Homo sapiens: one gene and its partner. The protein of the gene in region 1 interacts with the protein of each later gene in a pairwise test. Each region holds a gene or a part of one and is shown on either strand. Other genes may lie near its edges. The genes, in order: GRXCR1 and PRDM6.

Region 1 (3,826 bases):
TTGATGATCTGAGGTTAAAAATAATAAGAGCTTCATTTCCTGATCTCAAAGAAGACATGAAGACTCTTGATCTTAGCATCCTGTTTCTATATTGCATAACTGGGGGTAAACTTACATCTTGAAATTTGAAACTCAAATTTCCTTTGCTACAAAGGAAGTCTATTTCACAATCATTCATAAACTCTGCCATTATCTTTGTCGTTTGTCGTTTTTGTCCTTTGTTAGAGACACAATACATTTCGTGTGCTTTAGTTGAGATGACTGCAATATGGAGCAGACCTATCCAAGACTCAGGGGTGAGGCTGAGATGTACTACTAGGAAAGCAGAGAAGTGTCTGGTTTACTGCTATATTCCCATTGCCTTACACAGTGCCTGGCTAGTGAATACTCAATATATATTTGTGGAATGGAATGAATAAGTAAAAGGTCTCACTCACTGAGTATCTATCTTTTAAAACTCACTCACAGGAATAAATGAACAGAAAGAGGTAAAGTGGAGGGTGATTTCTCATTCTTTTTCTCTTGAGCTCCACTCCAAAGTGACTTGTCTCAACCCAAACCACTATTCAGAGGAGAGGAGACACAGTCTGTAGATTCAGTACTCTGTGTGCTATTCTCAACCAGGTCTGCCTGGATTCTTAATTGCTTGCAGGTCAACGTTTCCGCAGCAGTCAATCTCTTCATTGAAAGTGGAAGTCAGGGCCGGGCGCGGTGGCTCACGCCTGTAATCCCAGCACTTTGGGAGGCCAAGGCGGGCGGATCACCAGGGCAAGAGATCGAGACCATCCTGGCTAACACGGTGAAACCCCGTCTCTACTAAAAATACAAAAAATTAGCCGGGCAGGGTGGTGGGCGCCTGTAGTCCCAGCTACTCGGGAGGCTGAGGCAGGAGAATGGCGTGAACCAGGGAGGCAGAGCTTGCAGTGAGCTGAGATCGTGCCACTGCACTCCAGCCTGGGAAACAGAGCGAAACTCCGTCTCAAAAAAAAAAAAAAAAAGTGGAAGTCAGTATTTTTACTAATAGTTACTAATAGTAATGAAGCCTGTTTTGTTACTAGTTGTAATGTTACTAATAATTAGTAATATTATTAGTAAAGTAGAAGTCTGTTTCATCAACTTCAGTTATTCAGTTATTCCTCCAACTCCAAACTTTGTCCGTGTTCTTTGGGAAATTCCTAGCTCTTTTTCTATCTTGATCTGTGGGCAAAACTGTCTACAGAAGGGTTAGACTTCAGAGCAACACTAATATAAGAGCATCCAATATAACCCAACTGGGTTTTCTTTGTACAGAACCCTCTAAATTAGGACCAGACTTCCAGTATAACAAATTGCTCTTTGAAAGACATGGCTAGGCATGACTAAATTATTTATTCTTATTAGAATAATAAATAGCATAAATTGTGCTGGAAGATGTAGCAAGAATGAGATTCCTGGGTGCTGAGGGGGCACTGGGGAGCTTTAGTGGGTTGCCTCAAGCAAGAATGAGATTCCTGGGTGCTGAGGGGTCACTGGGGAGCTTTAGTGGGTTGCCTGAAGACCCACCCACCTCACCACCACTTTGGCTTTAGTCATAGCGTTTATCCTTTCAACTGCTTTACATTTGGGGATCTCATGTTTAGATAATTTGGGAAAAAACGGATGCAAATAAACATTGAAAACTACTATCATAGAGGGAAGACCATAGATTTTGCTCATAAAGAGACCTCTTCAATATTCCACTTTCTAGTTATAACTTGATAATTACTTTTTAAAAACCAGCTTAGAGGCTGTGTTTCCTCATTTGTAAAACGGTGGTGTCTATCACATCAGGTTGGTGTGAGAAGGGGGCAAAGACTCCTCCACACAAGATATAAGCCATCCCTTTCCTCTCTTACGTTTATGGCTGAAATAGCTAATTTTTCCTGAGAATGGAAGTAGCCCGAGAATCTTTCCAGCACTATTCTCCAAGACAACAGAAATAGCACATGAATTGAAACACATTTACTCTCCCTTTCTTACAGTGGCAAAACCTTAAACCAGAAGGCGAAGTATGGAACAAGTGTTTAAATTGAATGACTCTTAGAAGTGTAGAAAATGGTTGTGTCATGTGACCACAAGCAGTTTAGCTTAAGGTAGCAGTTAATAAAAATCATTTCAATAGGAATTTATTAATAAAATAATGGCTAATAATAACTAACTGTATTGAGTGCCTACTATGTGTCAGGCAATGTGCTGTTCACCTCCCATGAATTAGTTCATTGAATCCTCTCAACAATCCTTTGAATGAAAGAGAGATCTAATCACAGAATTGCAGACTCTGAGGATCCTATTTTAGAATGGCCTTGTTGTATTTGTGATTATTTTTAGAAATAAAAATGTAGCTTTGGTATTTATATATTAAGTTTATTTTAGGAAATTTGTTCTGACAAGGGGATAAATTATGAAGAAACAGTAGACTCTTGGTATTAGTGAATTTAACATTTGATATTTTAGCCTTTGAAAGTAATATTTGTAAGTGATGTTGTAGGCCCATTATGTAAAATAATTTTTAATTGTGTTGAGTTACTATTTTGAATTTTGTGTGCTCAGAGCCTGGTGTCTGAAGTGCCACACATAGACAAGGAGCTCAGAAAGCTGCATAGCACTAACATTTCATTCCAGCTTTGTTGTTCTTTGCTTGTAGTCACAAATATATTTCATGAGAAAACCATATGGCTATTCAAGAATATGGTCATTCACAAGTGTCTTGGGTCATAGCAGGAGTTGATATTCACCTAGTGTGCACTGGTACAGCAGTTGTGGTTATTGAAAATATTGAAATATGTTTGTACTCATTAAGATATTGAAATAATTGGTCCAGGTATGGTGGCTTATGCCTGTAATCCCAGCACTTTGGGAGGCCGAGGTGGGTGGATCACTTGAGTTAGGAGTTTGTGACCAGCCTGACCAACATGGTGAAACCCCATCTCTACTAAAAATACAAAAATTAGCCAGGCGTGGTGACATGCACCTGTAATCCCAGCTTCTTGGGAGGCTGAGGCAGGAGAATCACTTGAACCTGGGAGGAGGAGGTTGCAGTGAGCTGCTGAGGTCGCACCACTGCACTCCAGCCTGGGTAACAGAGTGAGACTCCGTCTCAAAAAAAAAAAAAGAGATGTTGAAATAATTTATACGGTTGGTAAATAGCCATTGCCCAAGATGGATTAATATCTCTTTTCTTCTATGTCAACTCTAACCTATAAATTTTGCCAGATACAATGCAGGATGCCCACTTACATTTAAATATCAGATAAATTATAAATAATTTTCTAGCTTAAGTATGTCTCATACAATATTTAGTACATACTTAAACAAAAATTATTTGTGGTCTATCTGAAATTCAAATTTAACTGAGCGTCCTGTATTTTTATTTGCAAAATCTGACAACTCTACTTTACTAGGAACTCAGATCTATTTACAATCTAGCAGTAATGAGTAAAGGGCTGGACTCAGGGTCCCTGCAGGTCCTTACTGTAGGACCTTGGCCAGCCCAGCATTTATTCTGACTTGATGCACTTGTTGTACAAGTCATTAAATATTTTTAGCATATTTAATGTCATAGCAATAGTGAATGACAAGGATCTATCTACATTATATTCTTTCTAGTATTTGATAAGAACTCCACTACTTAGGAATTTTCTCATATTTAGCTTTTAAAGTACACTATTTTTCCATCATTGGGTTTGTTTTTACTCAAAGTTTTTCTTTTTTCTATTTTAATATTACACAAAATTTAAGTGCAGTGCATCCTTTTTTTAAGTCAATTCTTGCACAAAGAAATGACAAAAATCCATCAACAAAGTGACCA
Region 2 (3,826 bases), on another chromosome or scaffold:
CGTAGAACCTCAAGATATGTCTCTTTTAAGTTTGCAAAGCATTTTAGTAGTCTTTAAAATACAAAAGATGCATTAAAATCTGATTATAAACTTGCTTTTTAAATAGAGTGAATTCAGATGGTTGGATCTATTATTTGCAAAGGTTCATTATAGTCATAATAACTAATTATACCAGGTAAAATAAAATAATAGTTGAAAAATTTCTGGATAGTAGAACTTTAAAAGTTTAGCTTTGAAGATGAGATGAGTTTATGCTGAATGCCATATAAAGCAATGAAACTATTTCATGGTAGGTAGATACTGAAACAGACTGTTTTGTCTGATCTCAGTTACGCTTAGAAAATCATATGTGTGGGGCCGGGCGCAGTGGCTCACGCCTGTAAACCCAGCACTTTGGGAGGCCGAGGCAGGCGGATCACGAGGTCAGGAGATCCAGACCATCCTGGCTAACACGGTGAAACCCTGTCTCTACTAAAAACACAAAAAATTAGCCAGGCATGGTGGCGGGCACCTGTAGTCCCAGCTACTTGGGACGCTGAGGCAGGAGAATGGTGTGAACTCAGGAGGCAGAGCTTGCAGTGAGCCGAGATCGCACCACTGCACTCCAGCCTGGGCGACAGAGTGAGACTCCATCTCAAAAAAAAAAAAAAATTATATGTATGTGTTATGATGTCTGTCCTGTAAAATAATAATGTCATAATTCGTAATATACTTATGTATATTATCAGAAAAAATACCTGAAAAACTAGAAAGCTTACGTATTCAAAATACATTTCAGTGGGAGATTGTTAGGTCTATACTGATTCCAAGCTAATTTAGAGTTACTGGCAAAAATCTAGGCGGCATGAGACTCCTGTCTTATCATGGACCCTGATGGGCTTATTTGATTCAGATGTCCAAGTGTGGAATTGCCAGCCTTTCCAGATGAGGTGAAGTAATGGGCTTGTTATCTGGGAAGGTGCCAGAGTGGGATTAAATTACTGAAGCAGTGGGTTCCTTCCCTGCAGTTTGTTGGTAAAGACTTGAGAGGTGTTCACCATCATTCTTGAATAAGTTAAAATAAAAAATTACTTCAAAAGATCAGTTCCTTTATAAGCAAAGTAATAAAATACAATGTTTCTTAGTAATGATGAGGAAATGCTTGACTTACATCATCACATCTGAGTTGATTGTTGAAGATAAGGGGAAATAGAGGGAGATATCCAGTCACTTGGACCCCCTAATTTCATTCTAGTTACATAATTTGCTTTTAGTATAAAGGGCTGGAATGGCTCATTTCTGTTCCGGAACCCAGTATGCTCTGTTTGTACCAGAAAGTTTGGAGATAAGAGATACTCTCCGTAATTTCTTAACCACATGGGTGAATTGCTAAACGGAAAAAATGTACAGAACTGTAATGGGACATCAAATTTGTTCATGACAGTAGCTACGTTTGGAACCTTTTTATGGTTATTATCCACGTGGATTATTACTGCTGAATACAGGTTGAGTATCCCTTGTCCAAAATTCTTGGGACCAGAAGAGTTTTGGATTTTGGGTTGTTTTGGATTTGGGATGTTTGCATTATACTCACTGGATTAGCATGCCAAATCTGAAAATCTGAAATCTGAAATGCATCATTGAGCATTTCCTTTGAGCATCATGTTGCTGTTCATAACATTTTGGATTTTGGAGCATTTTGGATTTTCATATTTGGGATGCTCAACCTGTATACGTATATTCTTTAGTGATTGATTCCAAAGATCAGCTGGCCTTTAGTCTTTAGCAATATATGCCCATTCAGCCACTTACAGTGAAAAGGCTGGATAGTTAGAATGCATTTCCCTTGCTCAGAAAACTCAAAAGCTTTTATTTTGATAGGAAAATCTTGCTAGAACCAGGTACAAGAAAGGCAAGAAAGGGGGACACAGGAGAGAAAGTCAGAAGGTAAAACAGGTTAGAGTTTCAAACAAGTCCAAATTTGAAACAGGCCCTTGAATCTGAGGTCCAAATGATTTTTTATTCAATGGACTGAATATTTGGCCATGAAACCCCAGATATTTCAACCTCCATCCAAGAGACTTTGTGTCTGTATTCATGAGCTTTTTCATGTGAGATACCATCAAAAGTCTATGCCTTGATATAAAGGAAAGAAATCCGTAGATCCTCAGGGATCCCAGCCTCACCATTTATTTTGTTTTATTTATTTTTTTTAACCACTGTGTTATTCACATTTAACACAGAAAAAAAAAATCTGTCTGACCTGGCAAAGTAGAAATCAGCACTAAAGACAAAAAACACACCCATGAGGGTCCAGGAACCATGGAATTATTATTACTTGATTTTGTTCTGTTAAGCAAAATCAAAAATCTCTTCCTCCTTTTTCCCAGGCTACTGACTTTTTCTTTTCCTGAATAAATTCGAAGAGAAGCAGCTGTTGGAATCTAAATCAACCAACATTTTGTTCAGGAACTTTATAAACATTTGGGGTTTTGCATAAGCTTATTGCCTAGGCCAAAGTAGCTTTTCTTGCTTTTGCTCAAACCAAAAGTGCTTTTGCTCAGCACTCCCATTGGGGGCAGTATGGTGGTGGGGGGTATGCTCCAGAAAGGGGTAAGCAAAGCCTTCAATCACAATGGATTGTTTTCTGACAAGTATGTTCTCTTTTATTTCCTGCAGAAAGTGTCTTTATAATGCTTATTTTTATTTTGCATCCCTTTTCTTTTCCTTTCTCCTTTTTGACTGTTTGTGCCACATGGGGCAAGTCTGCCTTCAGCCTCCTGGGCACACCATCACCTATTCACATTTGTGTTTTAAGTATCATTGTTTGTAAGAGATGTGGTGGGATCAGAGGGTAAAATGACATTAGAAGGGGCTCTCTGATAGGAGGGCCTGGAGAGAATTCATCATCATAATAGTTTCTTAGAATGTATCAGTATTCTTGTGTCCCACTTCTTCCCCATCCCCCAAGTGTGAAGGTTATCTTCTTTCTAGCTTTGATGTTCTTCAGGCTGTTTAGTCTTGCACTTCTGTCACTGTCCTGAAATATTTTTCTCCTTACGTAGAACTGAGTTCTTTTCTCACTCCACCCAGCCAGCAGTGACCTAAGTAATCTCTCTTTGAAGTCTTGAGAGATTTGCACTTGGGCTGGCTGATGTTGAACAAGGAGAGATTGTGGCCCCAACTGAACAAGTTTTGTCCTGGAGGCCATGGAAGAAAAAATTAAAGCAGGATTAATATTTTTAAGCCAAACCATACTTAATTTTGTTAAATGTTTCATCCTTTTCCCATGTATACACCAAACCAATTACAGATTAAAAGCAAATGAATTGCACATTTTACTGGAGTTATCTTTGGCAAAGGAGGTGCCAGTGACCAGGAGTGCCAGGAGATGTGCAAGATTGTCTCTCTGCCTTCTTTCTGCTTAAACATTTACCAGCATTGATATATACCAACTAAATCTACCCAGGTGTTTTCTGTTCTTCAGTTCTTTCTTTCTTAAGGAGCACCTTTCTGTTTTTTCATCAAGCTGGGTATTTCTGTGTCAGAACTAGCCACACAAAGCTATTTACATTTAAATTAATCCAAATTAAGTAAAATAGTACTTCAGTTTCTCAGGCGCACTAGCCACACATGAAGTGTGCAGCAGTTGCATGTGGCTTGTGGCTCCAGTATTGGCTAGCTCAGATACAGAACAGCTCCGTCATTAGACAACACTACTAAAGATCTCAAATGGTAAAAAAAAAAAAACAAAAAAAAAACCATAAGTTACTTGTGGTTGTGAGATACTGTCCTTTTGTGAGGCATACTGTTTGCCTTTGCTTTGAGAAGAGTGAAGTGCTATATG

Evidence for each region.
Region 2: the proteins of GRXCR1 (region 1) and PRDM6 interact in binary tests that used the Homo sapiens proteins (3 or more experiments, as listed by UniProt).

Annotation. Positions count from the first base shown.
Region 1 is NC_000004.12:43,024,995-43,028,820, forward strand, and holds part of GRXCR1 (glutaredoxin domain-containing cysteine-rich protein 1), read left to right. Parts: intron 1-3,826. UniProt on the Homo sapiens protein: May play a role in actin filament architecture in developing stereocilia of sensory cells.
Region 2 is NC_000005.10:123,172,555-123,176,380, forward strand, and holds part of PRDM6 (putative histone-lysine N-methyltransferase PRDM6), read left to right. Parts: intron 1-3,826. UniProt on the Homo sapiens protein: Putative histone methyltransferase that acts as a transcriptional repressor of smooth muscle gene expression.